5 separate regions of the Homo sapiens genome follow, and all the other regions are linked to region 5. The links come from fine-mapping of genetic effects on gene expression. A gene starts in region 5. Each other region holds a variant in brackets. All regions are shown on one strand. Distances are between the middles of the regions.

Region 1 (4,123 bases), 49 kb before region 5:
TTACCTTCTTTTAGAGAGTACCAACACATGTAAGGCTGCCCAGGATGCTGAAAAATCCTGCACTACAGAAATGCATTCAACCTTGTTCAGTGCAGAACCTCTCAGATGAATTTCACCAAAAGCTCTTTTTTAAGGGGTTTTAAAATTATTCTTAACATCAAGACGAACACTTTGGGCCACACTACCACAGGTCTGTGAATTTAGCTGAGGGCAACTCACACCCCTAGTGGCCATCAAGCCCTAAAGGAAGATGCAATTCAGAAATATACCCCCATTTGGCTGGTGGGTCACTTCTGAAGTCTGAGTCCAGCTTCCCTTCACCATCTGTCTTTTAATGTCCAGTACTAAGCACAGGCCTTAGTTAATTGAACATGCAAAGTGGAACCCACAGGCAATGATCTCAGTATATATTTTGACTCATCATCCAAAGAAATCAGAGATGAAAGCAACATCTAATGGCTGAGAATACATAAATAGCCATTTCCACTCACTTTCAATTACCCTGCAGAGGAATCTGGTCACAGATGAGCTCAGTAAATTCACAATATGTTATCCTCAATAGCTAAGCTGAGCAAAATCACCCAATTTGTTAGAACATTAATCCTCTAAAAGCCTGCCAACCCTAATCATTTTATGGCTTCACATTGCTTAATGGTAAAGATAAGAGGATCCCCAGGGATGCCCAGGTGTGACCTTCAGTGAGTCAAGTGCAGACAGTCTCCTGAGAATGTAGATGGATATTGTATGGCCTAAATATCCAGCCTATAGCTAGTGTGGTCAGTGTTCTAACTCTCCTCTGCACTATGTGCCTTTCACAGTCATCCTGGAGGAATTTCCAGTCCTTTGAAACTGGGGATTACAATGTATTTATTTCTGAATCCCCAATGATTGGCATAATATCAGATACCTGGAAGTCACACATTTAACAAATATTTGTTAAATGAAAAATCAAATAAGTGATAGTAGGCAGTTACCTTCAGCAAATACACTCACCATACATATGTACATACATAAAGGATGGGGTTCTTTTTTATATTTCTCAATCTGAACTGGGAGGTGAAGTCTCTCTTTGCTTGATTCTACCTGTGAGGGGAATCGTTCTGAAGTGCTGATACCTTAAGAGCACAACTGGCAGAATTGTGGAAAGCACCATAATCTACAGGTTTAAATCTTAGGTCTGTCTCTTAGTAGCTGTGTGACTTTGGGCAAGCTAGTTATTCTTTCTGTGTCTCAATGACCAAACTGTCAGATAGGAGTGATAATCAAGGTTGTCATGAGATAGGAATAAATTATATGCAGCTATGCATCACATAACAATGCTTCTGCCAACAACAGACTGCATATGCAATTATGGTCCCACAAGATTATAATGGAGCTGCCCTATACAGATATACCATTATTTTATCTCTTGCGCTGTATTTTTACTGTATTTTTTCTATGTTTAGGTATGTCTAGATACACAAATACTTACCATTATGTTACAATTGCCTACAGCATTCAGTTTAGCAGCATGCTGTACAGGTTTGTAGCCAAGCAGCAACAATAGGCTGGACCACCATATAGCCTAGATGTGCAGTAGGCTATTACTATCTAGGTTTGTGTAAGTACACTCTATGATATTCACATAATGATAAATGTGCCTAATAATCCATTTCTCAAAGGACATTTTCATCATTAAATGATGCATAACTATATATATAAAATATATATGTGTGTGCACACACACAAATATCTGTATGCAGCATGTGTCTTTATATATGACATATACTATATATATATATATATATATATATATATATATATGAAAGAAATGTGTAGTACACAATGAACACAATATAAGCCTGGGCTATTACTGTTGAAAGGTTGGGAGTAGAACACTAAGGAGTTTATGCACCCTTGCTCCCATGAAAATTGTTCTTTCTTTCTTTCTTTCTTTTTTTTTTTTTTTTTTTTTTGAGACAGAGCTTCGCCTTTGTTGCCCACGCTGGAGTGCAATGGCATGATCTCGGCTCACTGCAACCTCTGCCTCCCAGGTTCAAGCGATTCTCCTGCCTCAGCCTCCCAAGTAGCTGGGACTACAGGCATGCACCACCACACCCGGCTAACTTTTGTGTTTTTAGTAGAGATGGGGTTTCACCATGTTGCTCAGGCTGGTCTCGAACTCGCGACCTCAGGTGACCTGCCTGCCTCGGCCTCCCAAAGTACTGGGATTACAGGCATGAGCCACTGCACCCAGCCTAAATTGTTCTTTCTTAATGCTTTGTTCCCTTTTGGTATCTCTTAAAACTCACTTCTCACAATGTAAATGCAGCATGAGGAGCTAAAATCCTGACAAGGGATAGCATATATTTGTCTGGCCTTTCCCTCTACTCAGATTTCTCTGGGACCTATAGAAGTGTTGTC[T/C]GGTCAAGAATATTAGTTACCATATGACAGACTTTTGCACTTTTGCCTTCCCTTTTCTTCATCCTGGGGATATCTCATCACATCACCCACTGCTCAAAGGGCATGATAAATTCTAGCCAGGCAAAGCCCCCATCGCTGTACCAAAGGAGCTATATTCTCCTCCTAACCTAAATAGTGAATCAGTGTAACATAAACTTATATGACTAGTAAAATGGTTGCTGCTAGCTGACCAGCGGTCCTGTCAGGGAGTCATGCATTGTCGTGGTCTTTCAAATCAACTTAAGGTATGAATTATACACAATAAAGTGCACCTATTTCTTATATTTATATGTGAATGAGATTTGACAAATGTATAACCTCTATAACTACCACAGTCATCAATACATTTCCATCATCCCAAAAAGTTCCCTTGTCCCCTTGGTAGCAAATTATCGCCACCCTAGTCCCCAAGCAACCACTTATCTGTCACTTTAGTTGAGTTTTTGTCTTTGCTAAAATTTCGTACGTTTGCTTTTGTGTATTTTCTTTCATTCAGTTTATTTTTGAGTCATTTATGTGTTACATGTTTAAGTACTTTGCTCTTTTTTATTGCTAAGTAGTAATCCAGTGTGTGAATATACTATAATTTGTTTATTTATCAACCTAGTCATAGACATTTGAGTTGTTTGCTTTTTTTTTTTTTTTTTTGGCTGTTATGAATAAAGCTGCTATGAACATTCATGTAAAATTTTTTATGTGGACATATGCTCTCTTTCTCCTGTGTAGATTCCTAAACAGCATTGCTGGTCCTATGATAATTGTATTTTAACTTTATAAGAATATGCCAGACTGTTTTCCAAAGTGTTCTATCATTTTATATTCTCATAACTAATTTATGAGTTACAGTAGCTCCACATTTTGTAAATACTTCGTATTGTCAATCTCTTTAATTTTAGTAATTCTAGTGAATCCGTGATTGTATCTCATTGTGGTTTTTTTTTTTTTTTTTTTTTTGAGACGGAGTCTTGCTCTGTCGCCCAGGCTGGAGTGCAGTGGCGCGATCTTGGCTCACTGCAAGCTCCGCCTCCTGAATTCACGCCGTTCTCCCACCTCAGCCTCCCGAGTAGCTGGGACTACAGGCGCCCGCTACCATGCCCAGCTAATTTTTTTGTATTTTTAGTAGAGACGGGGTTTCACCGTGTTAGCCAGTATGTTCTCGATCTCCTGACCTCGTGATCCGCCCGCCTCGGCCTCCCAAAGTGCTGGGATTACAGGCGTGAGCCACCGCGCCAGGCCCTCATTGTGTTTTAATTTGCACTCCCTGATGATTAGTGATGTTCAGCATCTTTTCATGTGCTTATTGGCCATTTGCATATCTTCTTTCATGGTGAATCTGTTGAAATCTTTTGCCCATTTTCTACTTGGGATTTTTTTATCTTCTCATTGAATCCTAAGGTTCTTTTATGTTTATATACAAATCCTTTGTCAGATATACTTTGAAAATATTTTCTCCCAGTTTGTATTTGCCTTTCCATTCTCTTAATGGTCTTATGAGCAGAATATTTTAATTATGATAACGTTCTATTTTTCCATTTTTTCTTCATATTCCATGCTTTCTCTGTGCCTAAAACATCCATGCCAACGCAAAGTCACAAATATTTTCTGATATTTTTCTTCAAAAAATGTCATAAGTTTAGCATTATGTTTAGGCCTATAAGCCATGTCAAATTACTATGTAAAA
Region 2 (4,123 bases), 21 kb before region 5:
CTGTGCATTTTTTTTTTCAATAAGCATGTATTGTTCAAATTGAGCGTAACTTGGCAGGCAGGGGTGATGGTGGTAGTGTTACTTGTTATTAAGAAAAAATTTACACAAAAGTTGAATATAGTATAATAAACCACCATATAACTATCACCCAGTTTCAAAAATTAACAACTCACACCCAATCCTGTTTCATTTATATTCTCGTATCTCCCTCCCTATACTATTTTGAAGCAAATACCAATCATCATACCATTTCATTATAAATATTTTAGTAGGTGTCTCTAGGACTCTAAAAAGATAGCTGCAACACCATCATCACATCTGAAAAGTTAACAGTACTTAATTCCTTAAAATCATTACATAACCAGTGTTCAAATTTTCAGTTCTCATACATGTTAAAAATTTTTAATTTCTTGATTCCAGATCCATATCAGGGTCACATATTGTGACTGGTTTATATTAAGTACCTTTTATACTATAGGTTCTCCCTCCACTGATTCCCTCTGCTTGCAACTTATTGAACAACTGTGCCAACTGTATCCTTTTGGTGTCACTCAACATGATCTTCCATCCTTTCTATTTTTGGTTAATTGGTAGATGCTTCGTCAGATTTAGGTTTGATTCTTTTTGGCAAAACTTTATAGGTAGCAGTGTATTCCTCCATCAGAAAGCACTTAAGAATGTGTTTGTGTATTGTCAGTAGCTGCTGATGACCAATCCTTAACTCCATGAGAGGTTGCAAAATAGTGATGTTGCAATTCCATCCTTCCTTTTTCATTAGAATGTTTTAAAGAGAAACTACCCCCCATCTACTACTTACCTACCCAATGGTATAGTTTGTATGGGAAATGCAGGGAATATTAAAATGATAGTTCTCAAAATGTGAGCTCTGGGCCAGAAGCAGCATTACCTGAGAACTGAGAACTGAAAATTCTTAGGCTCCATCCCAGACCCACTGAATCAGAAAACTGGGGATAAGGTCCAGCAACATGTGTTTATCATGCCCTCCAGGTAACTCTGATGTATACTAACGTTTGAGAAACAAGGGACTACACCTGAAGTCTTGAAATGCCCTTGCTAAAAGCTGTTAGCTTTTACTACACTTTATAATACCAAAGTTAGGTTCCAGATTTTTTCCCAAGCACAGTATCTGCCCACCTAGTCTACAAATGAAAGAATCACACCTTCAACTTTTAACTTATCAAACAATCTAGCATGGTACTAGTCATGTTCCAAAGCTTTCAAAAACTTAACTATAGCTTGAAATACTTGCTCAATTAGATGCAAATTTATTTCTTCCAGGAAAAATAACTATTGCACTAAAGTGGTCTGAATGGACAGACAGGAAAATAGTTTCTAATGTTTGGCCTAAACTTCTCTCATGTATCTGTTGTTTCAGGGTTTCATACTGGAAAAAGGGGGTAAAATGTAGATGAAGCTATGTAGGCTCAATAATGGTCCCCCAATATGTCCATGCCCGAACCCTTGGAACCAGTGAATACATTACCTTATATGACAATAGGGACTTTGCAGATGTGACTAGGTTAAGAACTCGAGATGGAAAAACTACGTTGTTTGTGCAGGTGGAGCCAATAATGTTCTCATAAGGTCCTTATGAGAGGGAACAGAGGGAGACACTCTGAGAAGGTATGATGACAGCAGCAGAGAGAGATTTGAGATGCTACAA[T/C]TTGGGCTTTGAAGATAAAGGTCAATGAGCTCATAGCATGCAAGGAATGCAGCTCTAGAAGCTGGAAAAGGCAAGAAAACAGATTTTCCCCTACAGCCTCCAGAAAGAAGCAATCCTGCCAATACCTTGACTTTAGACCAGTAAACCTGATTTTGGACTTCTGGCCTCCAGAACCATAAAAGAATTAATTTTTGTTGTATTAAGACACTAAGTGTGTGGGAGTTTGTTACAGCAGCCATTGAAAACTAATACAAAGCCTTTGACAAGTTTTTTATTGTGAAATATTGGATCTAGAAAAAAGTACAAAATGTCAACAGTCAGATGTGTACAAGTACAGTATTTCAATAGTCTATACATGTGAACAGCTTAACAGGTTCACTGCAGAATGCATATTTAGACCAATATAATCTAAAAAGGACTGCAATATTCACAGGCTATTAATACATAAATAACTTGAGTCAAAATGACCCTTACTGGTAAATGCTAATTAATAGTGGAAAACAGGCTAAAAGCACAATACACCACACCATAGTATCTCCTTACAGGTCCACATTTAAAGAATATCAGTTTATTATGTCAAAACACTACAGAGATCCAGGACTGGGACTGAATTACTAATTTATACAATTGCAAAAAAATTTAAGTTATAAAATAAGGTCATGGAATAAAGAAGGGTATTTAATTAGGACTAAATACTGTGAAGCCCATGAAAGGGTTTTAGCCTTGGAATTTACAAAGCTAAATTATTAGACTGTTAATGTTAGCTAACACTAAAACTGAATTACCTTCCATTTTAATGTTAGCTAATATTAATATTCAACTTTTTAATTTTGATGTTAGCTAAGGGGAAGGACGAGGACAACTTTCTTTTGTAGTTTCTCCAACAAGGTGTAAGAACTATCAAAAAGTAAAACCATAATGACCACTGTGGACTGACAAATGGCTATGAAACAAGAATATAAAACATTACAAATTTCAAAGAAAGGTAATAACTATCTTATGAATTTAGCAAATCCTGCAAACGTTAAAATCCATGTTAAGGCATTATCTATCATGGTTGAGAGTACTAAATTTAAGAAAATTATTACATGAAGATCCCATAAAAATAAACTGGTTTAGTTTACAAGATTCTAACTGAATCTTTTTGTATCACTTGAAAATTACCCTATATTATGCTTTCAAAATGGACAAAGAATTATTTGGTATTCACTTTATAATGAACTATGAGAACAGTCTATTGAAACACGTCATGTTAAAAAAAAATTGTTTCAATCATGTGTTCTTAAGAAAGCCAATCTTTGATATGACATTCACAATCAATGCTTGTATAAAACAAAACCTTTAAAACTTATAAATTTAGTAACAGTTTTACATGAAGCAAATTTATCTTTGCCCATAAATTATTAAGAGAAGCAACTCACTCTATACAGTGTATCTAGCAATACTTTAAAATCAAACTAAAACTCTGAACTGATAATAACTAGGAGATAAATTCTATTTCAGGCTGAAAACCGCTGGATCAGAATATAGTCAATAACTTCATATAACCTATCCCACCCTACCTTAACCTTTTATAGACAATTTTAAAGACTTTAGGACAATTTACTTATAATGCCTGAATCTTATAGTAGATTCCAATTTATTCAAAGATTATCACAGATTGGATTAAAAAGATCATTTAATTTTTTTCAGATTTGCTTTAAATTTACAAATTACATTGTACATAAATATTAACTTAGATAACCACACATAGGGAAAGCAGATACATGGATCATTGCAGAAACATTAAAATTTTTAAAAAATTTTATAAAATATAAAGCAAAACATGTAACTCACACAATACTAATATGAAGCCACATGACATAAAAAATAAAATTACTCTTTAAGAAGCAACTTAAAATTAAATCTTTGGGGAACTATTTTGACATAATTAAATGAATTCAAAGACCAACAGCTTCCCTTATCACACAGAAACAAATCACAAAATTTTCTACAATCTATATGCATTATCAGTTAGTTCTAAATGTAATCTCAAACATTTTACTAGCAACTTTGATTTCCTTTTGAAATAGGCTTCTGTACATATGCATTTATATACAAACATTTATTAAACATGATTTTAAAACAAAATGTATGTACAAAAGATCAGCATTCCTATAAATAAAAACATTAGGTGGCAAAAAGGCACTTGTAAGTAAAAATCTACAGTAGTTTTTACAAAACAGAAACACATTTTACCTTAGATACTGTACAATAAACATTAATTCCTATACCAATAATGAAAATGCTAGGTTACTAATGTTAATGATGTAACTTTAAAAAACAAATTTACATATATCTGAAGTTCATTTAATAAAAGCACCGTGATTTTCTCCTAAATTCATCTTGATGCAAAGTAAAAACACAATTCCCAAAAAACCAGTGTTCGCCATTTTTCGA
Region 3 (4,123 bases), 41 kb before region 5:
TTTGAAGCCTGTTTTTAAACTGTTAAAAATGTCTAGAGTAGCTTTTCCCTTAGGGTTAGTCTAGCCTACTACTAAGGTATAAGTCTTCCAGGGTCTGTATTTAATGTTTAATGAGGCCTCATCACTTTGGCCGGTTGGAACTCAAGGAACTTTCAGTCAAGTATGTTCTCTGGAAATTGCTTATTTTGCAGCACCCTAGTGGTTCCTTGCTTGGCATAAAGTTTTCATCCTTAGCATGCATAGCTTAGTTTTCAGCAACAGACTCAAGTGGACCTATATGCAAATTTCTGGTGCCCTTTCTCTGCATGGCTCCCTACTCTCCAGTTTCCTACTCTACAAACTACAGCTACCTCAGCCTCTTCAACCTGTAGTTTCTATGTCTTCAACACAACAAGACCACTGAGTTCTGTTTGGGTTCTCCTGCTATGTGCTGTCCCTAAAGTACAGAAAGCTGAGATCATTTTAGGGCCCACATTACTGATTTACCTTCTCTCAAGGATCACAGCCCTGTACTACCTTTCATCCAAAGTCTGAAGACAGTTGTTTAATACATTTTTGTACAATTTTCTAGTGTTTCTGGTAGGAGGCCAAGTCCAATTTCAGTTACTTTATGGAAGTCAAACACTGGTTTGATTGCTATTATACTCTAGGCAAAATGGTTTCTGATTTAAGTAAAAGTCACATTAATCTACAAAAGACAACCTTCTCCTTCAAAGACCATAATAATCTCTTTTTATCATTAAACAGACTTTGAGGAAGAGCAAAGAACAAATGGTCAAAGACGGTTGTTTTGGCAAGGTTTTCATAATAAAGTTTCTCCACCCTTTTCATTTAGCAGCAATCTCCTGCCTAACCACTTTTCCTCACCTCCATCCTTGGTTCTGGACTCCCATGTAGCACACTTTGCTCCTACTTTTTTCAAAATATCTCTCTACAGAATTTCTTGCCTAATTATCCATCTGTTCAGCCTCCAACTCCCCATTCAGGGACTATGTAGATGGGCTCCAGCAGTGGTGGGGAGACTAGCTCAGGGTTTATTGCTTTTTATCAAGGTAACACCTGTTCTTTTCAGCAAATGCCTTCCGGAGACAATAGTTCTGCCTTTCATGTTTAACCCAAAAGAAAACAGCTAATCAATAATCACTCCTCTTGGCCAGTCATTGAGACTAAACATTTTAATCAGATGAGGCTTTAAAATAAGTCTCCAGGAAGACAGTTAATAGAACTGGAGAACCTTTAATATATATCTCTCTCCTTCTAGTATCTGGAAGAGCAACAGAAGGAAGCATTCAAAACAATTCCTACCTAATTGACCTCTGAGGTTGATGCAGTTGTACGTGGCAAGGATGTACAGGTTGTTTTGTTTTGTTTTGTTTTACGATTTTAAGTATTTCATTGAATGGAATGTTTGGATTCATTTATTTATTAATGCAAGAAATGTTTATTTCACTCTTACTTTGTTTCACCTGCCTTGTGCTAGCCATTCCCTAATGATGAATTGATATGGTTTCTGTCACCAAGGAGCTCACAACCTCTTGAAGGAGCAAAACATAACAGGATCATTATAACATAGTGTGAGCTCATTTGATAGAGACATGCTTAGAGAGCTATATGAGCACAGAAGAGAGATTAATTCTCCATGCTTCCCATGACCGGGCACCATTTCAGTAATAGCTTATGGACAATATACCTGAGTTTCTCAGTATTGAGATGATAGTTTTAAACTAGTAATGTTGTAAGAGATATGAGGAACAGTGAATGAAACTTTACAAAATGAAATGGGTGTCTGTAGGGCCTGTGAGGAACTGCTGATTTAAGGCTAAGGGAGGATGTCTTCATGCTCAATGCTCAGATCATTATCAGAGACAAAGAAATAAGGCAAGAGAGCAGATTTGATGTAGTTAATTGGATGAGGGAGCAAGCCAGAACTCTGTTGGAAGGCTGAGTTATGATAGCCAACAAAGGAGAAATAGAATTGACTAAGAAGCATGTTCTTTATACAGCAGTAATGCCTAACCTGAGATCCATGAGTAGGCTTCAGATGTATTGGAGGAAAGGAACCTCCCCATCCCTGAAATTGTCTTCACATTTTTGGATGTGCGCACATTTGCATTTTTCTGGGAAAATGTTCCATAGCTTTGATCAGGTCATCAAAGTGTCACACAGCCCCTAAATATTAAGAACTACTGCTGCATAGTAACTTATCGTGTAATGGCAATGAGTTATAAAACCAAAAGCCTCAAATTTGAGACCTGCATCCTCCATGTTCTAGTTGTGTGACCTTGAACATGTCCTTTTATTCCTCTATGCTTACACTTATCATCTGCCTACCTTGTGGAATTATTGTGAAGGTCAAAGGGTTTCATGAAATAAAAAGTGCTACACAGTTGTTATCTACCAAGACAACAATTGACTTAAATAAATGCAAATACAATTTATTGGAAGTTCCTTATTACTCTTTTAAATATGGTAAATCCATTCTAGAGGTTAATACCTATC[C/CGTGTGTGT]GTGTGTGTGTGTGTGTGTGTGTGTGTGTGTGTGTGTAAACTTCCAAAAAATTTCAGTGTGAAAGTTTTCAAGCTTACACAAAAGGAGATAAAATTGTATAAAGAACTCCCATGTACTTCTCATTGGTTTCATAATATCAACATATATCCAATCTGGTTCACCTATAATCCGATCTCCTCCTCTTTCCCTCACTGGGCTATGTTGAAGCAAATCCAAGACATCATATTATTTTATCTACACATTGTTTAGGATATTTCTTAATAAATAAGGATATTCCTTAATAATTCCTTAATAAATAAAAATTCCTTAATAAATAATTTCTTTTGTTTCAAAATGAAATTAAGGAATTTATTAAGGAATATCCTATTTATTATTTATTAAGGATATTTATATTCCTCAAGGAATATTAAGGAATAACTATTAAGGAATATTTCATTTTGAAACAAAATGAAATTAACATTTTTGACATAACAACAATACCATCATTACACAGAAATATTAAGTAAATCCTCAACATCATCAGTGTTCAAATTTCCCTGGTTATTTTCTTGAGGCAGGATCCAAATAAGATTCACACTGAGCTTTTAGTTGCTAGGGCTCCAGATGTTAACTCAATCCCAACTTTTCCAGATTCTCCCATCTAGGGCCCTAAATACTCTTCCTTTGCAGCTCCTAAGCCAGCATGTAACATGCTGGAGATTATAGCAGCAGCCTCAGCCATCAGCAGTTGGATCCAGGAATGATTTTTGTTGTCAAAACCCTTATCAACAGAGATCGGCCTGATTTTCCTTTCAGCTTCTGCTTTGATTTCTCTGAAGAGCTCCTGACTATTTGACTATTGTTTTCATGACTATATATGGTGATTTTAAAACCTTCCTACAAATTCTTTGACGTTCCTCCCATTAAGAAATGGTGGCTGTACCCTACTTGAATCTAGATTAGTTTTGACTGCTTTACCCAATAAAGTACACTAGAAATGAGACAATGATTTACAAGGCTGGGCCATGAGTGATCAGGGAGCATCTATCTTTTTTGCTGGAACAGTCCACCAGAAGCCCAGACCACATGAAGAGGCCATACACAGGCATTCCAATTGAGAGTCCCAATTAAGCTTAGTCTTCATGGCATATCACCAGTCACCACAACTGTGGTTAAAAAAGTTTCCAGATGATTCCAGTCCCTGGCATATGAGTTATTCCAGATGTTTGAGTCTTCCCAATAGAGACCCTAGTTGTTATAAAGCAGAGAAAAACCATCCTTAAGTTTTATTAGAGAGGACACTCTCTGAAATCCTGATCAATAATAACCTTCAGCATAATAAAATGATTTATATTTTTATGCCACTAAATTTTGTGGTGGTTTGCTATACAACATTAGTAATGACACTAAGCCAGGCATGGTGGCTCACACCTGTAATCCCAGCGCTTTGGGAGGCTGACGCAGGCAGATTACTTGAGACCAAGAGTTCAAGACCAGCCTGGCCAACATAGTGAAACCCCGTCTCCACTAAAAATATAAAAATTAGCCAGGCATGGTGTCATATGCCTGTAATGCAAGCTGCTTAGAAGGCTGAGGCACAAGAATTGCTCGAACCCAGGAGGCAGAGGTTGCAGTGAGCTGAGA
Region 4 (4,123 bases), 150 kb after region 5:
GCAAAACTATAAATCTCCTTAGTAATTCTTTACAGCTCAAGGCCCAGTATTTGTGGGAGCAATGCAGTTCTCGGCATCATTTCCAGATATGGCTTCTTGTGCTCTGGTATTCTATACAACTATAAAAAAATTAGATTCACCTCCCCACTCACACATACCTTTATTATATGATGGTGGATCAGGAACAGGATTAGTACAATAAGAAATCATATTCAAAAAAGGAAAGACTGGGAAACAGTTGGTGATTTCTGGAAATTATAAGCTCCTGCTGGATAGGAATAATAAAAACTCCCTGTTTTAACAATAAATGTTTTGTTTAGCTCATTTGGCATTCCATATTTCTTTTCTCTGGGAGGAACACCTTTGTTCATTATTCTCCCTGGCCTGTTTGGAGTACGTTTTTCCTTGCCTATTTTGCTCCATGATACATTTGAGATAGGCATTGGAGAGAATTTATTTTGTGTGGAGGCAGGGAGTTCATCACATCTTTTGCAGCTATCTTCTAGATGCAAGTTTATAGGCCTTCAGGTTGCTTTAGCACTCAAATAATCATAGATTTTTGTATAATAGAACTGACTTGGTGCTTCTTTGCCAATATAATTTCCTCAAAACTTAGGCATCTGGTCTATATTTATTGTCAGTTGTGTGCATGTGTATATGTGTGTGTGTGTGTGTGTGTGTGTGTGTGTGTGTGTGTGTGTGTGTGTATATATATATGTATATATATATACAACAGCCAAAGGTTTCTATTAGAGTAGTTTAATGCATGAAAAGTCTGGTGTTCTCCTTTCTGCCCTCTGTACTCTGCTAGCTATTTTAAACAGAAAAGCATTTCAGATGGAATTAGATGCCTATAAAATCATGAAAGGGATGAAGTAGTGGATTCCAGGTAGCACCTTCAGAAATGATTCTCAGAATGACATAGCTAAACAGGCTTTGCAAAGGAACAGGCTTTAGCAGCCTGTGCTAAAATGAGGAAAGTGGAGATTTGAGAATGTTGCCATTAGAACTGATGCAATTACTATAAACAAGCTATAATCCAACGATCAAGAAACACAGAACTTCAAGGCTGGCAATCAGCCAAAACAGTAAATAGATTGTCTCTGTCTCACTACCATTTTCCAAGTATTTTGTGAATGCATCTAATTAACAGAACTGATGTTATATTCATGACTTTAGTATTTAAGAAAGTCTGAAAAATGTATTTTGTAGCTTTCCCACCTCTGCAGTTTTAGGAAGCCCACTAGAAAGAGTGTGTAAAATGCTGAGTGCCATCCACTATACTCACTACAATTCATCCCTTTGGCTATTGCACTTTCTTTTCTTTTCTTTCTTTCTTTTCTTTTCTTTTCTTTTTTTTTTTTTTTTTTTTTTTTTTTTTTTTTTTTGAGACGGAGCCTTGCTCTGTTGCCAGGCTGGAGTGCAGTGGTGCAATCTTTGCTCACTGCAACCTCCGCCTGCCAGGTTCAAGCGATCCTCCTGCATCAGCCTCCCAAGTAGCTGGGACTCCAGGCGTGCACCACCACGCCCAGCTAATTTTTTGTATTTTTAGTAGAGACAGGGTTTCACCATGTTGGCCAGGATGGTCTCGATTTCTTGACCTCATGAACCACCCGCCTCAGCCTCCCAAAGTGCTGGGATTACAGGCATGAGCCACTGCGCCCAGCCTGGCTATTTCACTTTCAGAAACACCATTCTACTACTACTTAAACTTCTAAATAATAATTGCACAACATATGCTTCCAGTCACAATGAAACTATTCATCATAGAGATAAAAACATGCTTCTATAAAAGGAGAAACCCAAAATCTCATCAGTATCTGTAACTATCTCTGAATGATGTTTACTCCTTTTCTAGTTAAATCACAACCCTGACATAATATCCTGTAACCAACCCAAGGATATTATGGCATTGAAAAATAATATTAATATGATTGAATAATAAAATCAATCAGTCATACTATATAAAACAATAGAGAGAAGAGAGATGAATGAATGAGAAAAACATAGACATAATAGTACAAAGAAGAAAATATGGGCAGCTTTTATAGGCCTTATTTCTGCAGTTTATCACCAAGACATTGATTACTACTTATAATTCTTTCTTCCCAAACTCCTATCCTGTCCTCTTTATCCTCCTTTATTACCTCAGCTAGTTGCTGTTCTTTGCCTTTTTAGATAATCTAAATGTTGGTTGCTGAAAGATATGAACATACAGAATTCCTGCCTGTATTGTGTGTCTGTAACGTTTCATTGTCTTTTATCATTGGATAGCAGTTTGATATGTTCTGGCTGTGGCCCCACTGAAATCTCATCTTGAATTGTAATCCCCATAATCCCCACATTTCAGGGGAGGGACCCAGTGGGAAGTGATTGCATCATGGTGACAGTTTCCCCCATGATGTTCTCA[T/C]GATAGTGAGTGTGTCCTCATGAGATCTGATGGTTTTATAAGTGTCTGACATTACCCCTGCTTGCACTCACTTCTTCCTGCTGCCCTGTGAAGAAAGTCCCTGCTTCTGCTTCACTTTCTGCCATGGTTGTAAGTTTTCTGAGGCCTCCCCACCCATGCAGAACTGTGAGTTAATTAAACCTCTTTTCTTTATAAATTACCCAGTCTCAGGTATTTCTTTATAGCAGTGAGTGAATGGACTAATACAGTAAACTGATACCACAGGAAGTGGTGTGCTGCTATAACGATACCCAAAAATGTGGAAGTGACTTTGGAATGGGGTAACAGGCAGAGGTTGGAACAATTTGGAGGGCTCAGAAGACAGGAAGATGTGGGAAAGCTCAAAACTTCCTAGAGACTTGTTGAATGGCTTTGTTCAACAAATTGTTCAACAAATCAATGGCTTTTTGAATGCTGATAGTGATATGGACAATAAAGTCCAGGCTGAGGTGGTCTCAGATGGAGATAAGGAACTTGCTGGGAACAGGAATAAAGGTGGCTTTTGCTATGCTTTAGCAAAGTGACTGGCAGAATTTTGCCCCTGCCATAGAGGTCTGGGAAACTTTAACTTCAGAGAGATGATTTAGGATATCTCACAGAAGAAATTTCTAAGCAAGAAAGCATTCAAGAGGTGACTTCGGTGCTCTTAAAAGCATTCAGTTTTATGCATTCACAAAGAGATTGTTTGGAATTGGAACTTACGTTTAAAAGGGAAGCAGAGCATAAAAGTTTAAAATATTTGCAGCCTGACGATGTGATAGAAAAGAAAAAGCCATTTTCTGAGGAGAAGTTCAAGCTGGCAACAGAAATTTGCATAAGTAATGAGGATCCAAATGTTAATCGCCAAGACAATAGTGAAAATGTCTCCAGGACATGTCAGATGTCTTCAAGGGACCCCTTTTATCACAGGCCCAGAGGCCTAGGAGGAAAAAATGATTTCGTAGGCTAGGCCCAGGGCCTTGCTTCTTTGTGCAGTCTCATGACTTGGTGCCCAGCGTCCTAGCTGTGAATAAAAGGGGTCAATGTACAGCTCAGGCCATTGCTTCAGAGGGTGCAAGCTCCAAGCCTTGGTGGCTTCCATGTGATGTTGGGCCTGTGGATGCACAGAAGTCAATAATCGAGGTTTAGGAACCTCTGCCTAGATTTCAGATGTATGGTAATGTCTGGATGTCCATGCAGAAGTTTGCTGCAGAGATGGAGCCTTCATGGAGAACCTCTGCTAGGGTAGTGTGGAAGGGAAATGTGGGCTCACAGCCCCCACACACAGTCCCCACTGGGGTATTGCCTACTGGAGCTATGAAAAGAGGGCCACTGTCCTCCAGACCCCAGAATGGTAGATCCACTGACAGCTTGCACCATTAACCTGGAAAAGCAACAGACACTCAACACCAGTCCATGAAAGCAGCTGGGAGGGGGCTTGCATCCTGCAAAGCCACAGGGGCAGAGCTGCTCAAGACCATGAGAGCCCACTCCTTGCATCAGCATGACCTGGATGTGACATGTGGTTTCAAAGGAAATTATTTAGGAGCTTTAAGATTTAATGACTGCCATGTTGGATTTTGGACCTGCATGGGGCCTGTAGCCATTCTGTTTTGGCCAATTTCTCCCTTTTGGAATGGATGCATTTACCCAATGCTTGTATCCCCATTGTATCTTGGAAGTAACCAACTTGCT
Region 5 (4,123 bases):
GTAACACTACAGACCTTTCCTCAGATCCATTAAGGCTTTACCATTTTTTTTTAGTTTAACATAACTGTTTACATTTGCATTTTCATTAGCAAGGCTGTACATTTTCCATGTAGTATTATTCCTTCTCTCATATAAAGTCTAACTGTAAATTAACCACCACTGGTTTTTTTCGCAACATTCTCTCTCCCACCATGTATAAAAGGTTTACAACTTAAAATTTCTGGGGCTAAACCATTTTTTAAAAATACTTTCATAAAAACATGGGATTACAACCCCCAAGTATTCCATAAAGACAACACTTGTCTTTAACAGTCAAAAACTATTCAGTATACAAACCTCTCTTGTTGAAATTCTGATCTGCAGTAAGTACATTTTACAATAGGATGTGCAATCCGACATTCCTGTAATAAGACAATACATTAGTCAGTATCTTTCTGAAAGTCCCAAATCTCACTTTTCTGGTAGAAAACTGTTTACCCAACCTAGTGAAAGTCTAAAACATTTATAAAACCTGGCCCCAACGTAAAGAACTGGATGCTTTATCATATAAGTGGCCAATCACAATATAATTCCTTAGGGAAGGCACAGGTGTCTTTGTCTTTAGTAGACGTGGGGGTATATTACAGACAAATTAAGAAAGCTGTCAGGGCCTATTTCAAGGATTGGTTAAATGTGAAACTACTTATTATTTTGCACCGTTGCTCACAGACAGCATCCAGGCTTTAATGGGATGGGAGGAGCTCCAAATCAGAGCATTCTGTTCCCAAACCAGTCGCTTCGCTTTCCTGGACAGGGAAGAAGGATGCCATCAGCTTTGCGGCTTCGGGTTCCTAGCAAGAAAGTGCAAAAACCGTCCCCTGCCTCCTGGTGGAAGAAGAGGACAGACCAGGCAGAAAACCGAGATGAAAACATCTCCACCCCTGGGTCTCTGCGGCATAGACAGGTGGCTGCCTCACTCAACCCCACTCCTGAGACCCCCAGACGCTGACGGGGCCCGGCACCCTCCTGGGCCGCCTGGAAAAGGGCACGATTCTGCCTCCCTTTCAGGGTCCGTTCCCAGCTAATGTTCAAGCCCCCAGAAAAAGGGGTCCCCGAGTGGGGAGGCGAGGGCTCCAGACTCCCAAACCCCTGAGGCGCCGGCGAAGAGGGGCTGCAGTGCAGCGGCTACCCGGCCCCCTCCGGCTACGGCCGAGGACACCCATCCCGCCCGCCTCCCGGAGCCCACGGACCTTGCAGAGCTGCTGGCCCTGGGAGAGCTCCTCGAAAGGATAACGCTGGGTACACTTGGTGCAGGCGTACAGGGCCGAGGCCGCCATCCTGCTCCTCAGTCTCCTCCTCCGCCGCCGCCCGCTCCGAGGCGGGGCCCTACGGAGAACCCGAGAGCCGCCGCCGCCCGGGCCGCGGGCTCCTCCTCCTCCCCCTCCCCCTGCCTCGCGCCCACCAGGGCCTCGCCGCGAGAGCCCAGGGCCCCGCGGACGACGCCACCGTCTCCCTCCGCCTCCACTTCCGCCCCAGCCCACCCAGTGACGCCGTGCCAGCCGCTCCCGCTTAGGCCCCGATAGCGGCGGAGGGAGACGAAGCGGGTAGGGGGTTGCTGTTTAGCTGTGCGGCCGTGGATCCGCTTCCTTCTCGGCCTCCCTTTCCCATCCCTGATTGGCTGCGAAGGCTATCGCGTCATTCGATGGCTCCTCCCAACTCCCAACTTCCGCGACGCAGGAAGCGCCCACAAAGGGAGGATGTCGCCGGCCAATGACATCCCGGAGCTCTCAGCGCGCGAAATCCGCTTTGAACCTGCCCCGCCCAAAGGTCTGCGGTCGCGGCTATTTCTAACAGCCAGTCCCAGGTTTGGCTGAGAGCGCCCCAATCCAATTGAGCAAATGTTCGCGAAAGGCTCGTTCTCTGCCGCAACTTTTTTTCCCTTGCTTTCTATTGGACTAAATCGTTAAGTCCCTCCTAATCCTATTTGTTATTGGCCAAAAGGTAAATACTTCACCTGGAGAGGCGTCCCCGAGGCAAATTCACGCTCTCTCCGGCGTTTAATCCGAGGGAACTCGTGGAGTGCTTTAACTTCGCCTTCGCTTTTGTTTTATCTCCATTACTCCCTTCAGTTGCCACTGGCGACACCACTACTCGCCCACGCTTCTTACTGGAGGAGGCCCGACCCTCCGTAGAATCCCCGCAGAGCCGGCCTGTAACCCCGGCGTTGTCTGCCCCAGCGGGCCCCGTTACGCGCTACCTTGTGACGTCACCAGGGAAGAGGCGGATTCTCTCCTACTACAGAAAGACGTCTGCTGTTTTGATTGGCTAGGAAAGACGTCCGTTAGGACGTGTTGCCCTTTCTGTGTAAGCTGTGAGCGTAGGCGGCCCTGAGGGGGTGTGTTGCAGGGGTTTCCAAGCCCAGCACCAGCACCCTTGCCCTTTTCCATCAGGGGTTCAGCCTAGGGTCCCCGCTGGTGGGCGGCTCCCGAGTCTTGGAGAAGAGCACGAGAACCTAGACCGCCCCCGAAGTGCGGAGACCCCCTGGGCAGGCTGAAAGATGGCGGCGGCGTCTGTCTCTGCGGCTTCTGGTTCTCACTTGTCGGTAAGAAGCAGTTGGCGCGAGTGGGCCCCACGTCGGCCCTAAGCGCCTCTTTGAGTTTCCTCACGTTTCAGGGCGCTGTCAGTCCAGCTTCTGACGCAATTCTGGAGGTCGGCGGGAATGCCTAGATTGCCCCGCGCTCCCCAAGCTTCCATTCACTGTGGCTGTGTCGAAGCTGCACCCTCTGGCTCCCAGTGAAACTGGGCTGGCCGCCCCTGTTCCCCAGCCCTTATTCACCTTTTGGCGTAGCAACCAACCCCGGTTGCCTAACATTCCCAAGGGCCGGCTGGGATAACTGCCCACTCCCTGGCCTGCAAAAATGTAGCTCTTTTGGTCACGTGGGTTCAGCGGCCCCTCTAGGAAACTCGCCAGATCAGGTGAGGCGCGCCAGTGTGTTTAAGAGACGTTGCAGAATAGTAGTCCGCCGTCTCTCGAGCGCTTACTAGTCGTTGCTTATGCTGTTTCCTATCCCTGCAGTGCCTCCCACTCCCATCCACATTAACTTCGTTGTGTGATGCTCGTAGCCAGAACGCGCGCTTCCTGTCACCTAGAATTACTGGAACTTCAATGTGGAAATGCCCTTTTGGAGAGGCGACAGGGGGAATTGATTTTAAATATTGTTTTCGCCTCATCAAATGTCACCATCCAGTTTAGTTACTGGTATTCACTGGTATTTCTCAAATTGGAGTGTCGAATGCTTAGGTTTTTGAAAACCGCGGCATTGGAAAGCTTTGATAGGAAGTAAATGTTGGAGCTCTTATTTCTCCAGTTAGCAAATGTTCGATGCCTGGTATACTGTTAGGGTCCAAATGAACAGAATAGAAACCCTGCTTTGAAGGAGAAAAACACTGAAGAGAAACTACACGTAATTAGTGATTACTGCGCAGTATAGTTTAGGAAGTGCTACCGTAGTAGAATAATCTAGAGGGGAGTGATTAACAGTGCTTGGGTAGGCTAGAGAAGGTTTCCTAGAAGGGAAGATGGAGCTAGTTGCGTGTCGAAGGAATTGTGATTGCTTGTCCCAAGAGTAGAGAAAGGAGAAAAAGGCAGTGCGGGAATTTTGGAGTATGTGCTAGAACAGTAGGTGCTTTTAGGAAACTTGAGATAGTTCGGAATGAGAAGAAGTAATACGGAGGTAGAGCTGGATGAGGTGAATTGGAAACGTAGGTAAAAACGTGAAAAAAGAAGGATGGTGAGGGAAGGAACTAGAAGAGTATCAGGGTAAAGTTATTTTCTAGGATCTAGGGGGAAAGAGTTGGAAACGCTAAGAAAGCCTGGTCACCTTGGAGAAGTCAGTTTCAGCTTTTGGAGACTTGTTAGAATTTGTAATAATGGGACTAGAAGTATTACAGTGTTTCAGCCGAATGGGAATTAGAAGTTTGCAGAGAGGTCTGGGGAAGTTAAGGAGAAGTAAGGAAAGCAGCAATTTAAGGTTATTCAGGATTAGGTCAGTAAAAGAAAAAAGTAAAAAACTATTGGAAGTGTCAGCAGATGGATGAGATTTTATAGGAGATGTGATTAAACTTGGGAGAAGAGGGCTTTTCA

Direction of the effects. Alleles are on the strand shown, and positions count from the first base shown. SD is a standard deviation of normalised expression in the study named. Not every link is listed here.
In carriers of allele C in region 3, the expression in activated CD8 T cells of the gene that starts at base 2,336 in region 5 tends to be lower than with CGTGTGTGT alone (large effect, 0.82 SD a copy in Schmiedel 2018).

What was found. PIP is the estimated chance that this variant, and not a neighbour inherited with it, causes the effect.
Region 1: its variant is the best candidate, but not a certain one, in a credible set for the expression of CEP57 in whole blood (INTERVAL, PIP 0.79).
Region 2: its variant is the best candidate, but not a certain one, in a credible set for the expression of CEP57 in whole blood (TOPMed, PIP 0.72).
Region 3: its variant is the best candidate, but not a certain one, in a credible set for the expression of CEP57 in activated CD8 T cells (Schmiedel 2018, PIP 0.81).
Region 4: its variant is the best candidate, but not a certain one, in a credible set for the expression of CEP57 in lymphoblastoid cells (GTEx, PIP 0.62).

Annotation. Positions count from the first base shown.
Region 1 is chr11:95,739,064-95,743,186 of GRCh38, forward strand. No RefSeq gene overlaps it. Among named protein-coding and RNA genes, the nearest start is that of FAM76B, 49 kb to the right of the region's middle. The variant T/C (reference allele first, on the strand shown) is at 2,404.
Region 2 is chr11:95,767,014-95,771,136 of GRCh38, forward strand. FAM76B (family with sequence similarity 76 member B) reads right to left here. Exons shown (of 10, transcript NM_144664.5): 10 at 1,940-4,123. Among named protein-coding and RNA genes, the nearest start is that of FAM76B, 21 kb to the right of the region's middle. The variant T/C (reference allele first, on the strand shown) is at 1,685.
Region 3 is chr11:95,746,745-95,750,867 of GRCh38, forward strand. No RefSeq gene overlaps it. Among named protein-coding and RNA genes, the nearest start is that of FAM76B, 41 kb to the right of the region's middle. The variant C/CGTGTGTGT (reference allele first, on the strand shown) is at 2,500.
Region 4 is chr11:95,941,337-95,945,459 of GRCh38, forward strand. No RefSeq gene overlaps it. Among named protein-coding and RNA genes, the nearest start is that of MTMR2, 19 kb to the left of the region's middle. The variant T/C (reference allele first, on the strand shown) is at 2,411.
Region 5 is chr11:95,788,163-95,792,285 of GRCh38, forward strand. It overlaps CEP57 (centrosomal protein 57), which reads left to right and starts at 2,336. Exons shown (of 11, transcript NM_014679.5): 1 at 2,336-2,581. The coding sequence starts at 2,537. FAM76B (family with sequence similarity 76 member B) reads right to left here and starts at 1,620. Exons shown (of 10, transcript NM_144664.5): 1 at 1,230-1,620; 2 at 337-401. The coding sequence starts at 1,316. RefSeq lists a silencer at 1,228-1,647 and enhancers at 2,148-2,617, 2,581-3,244.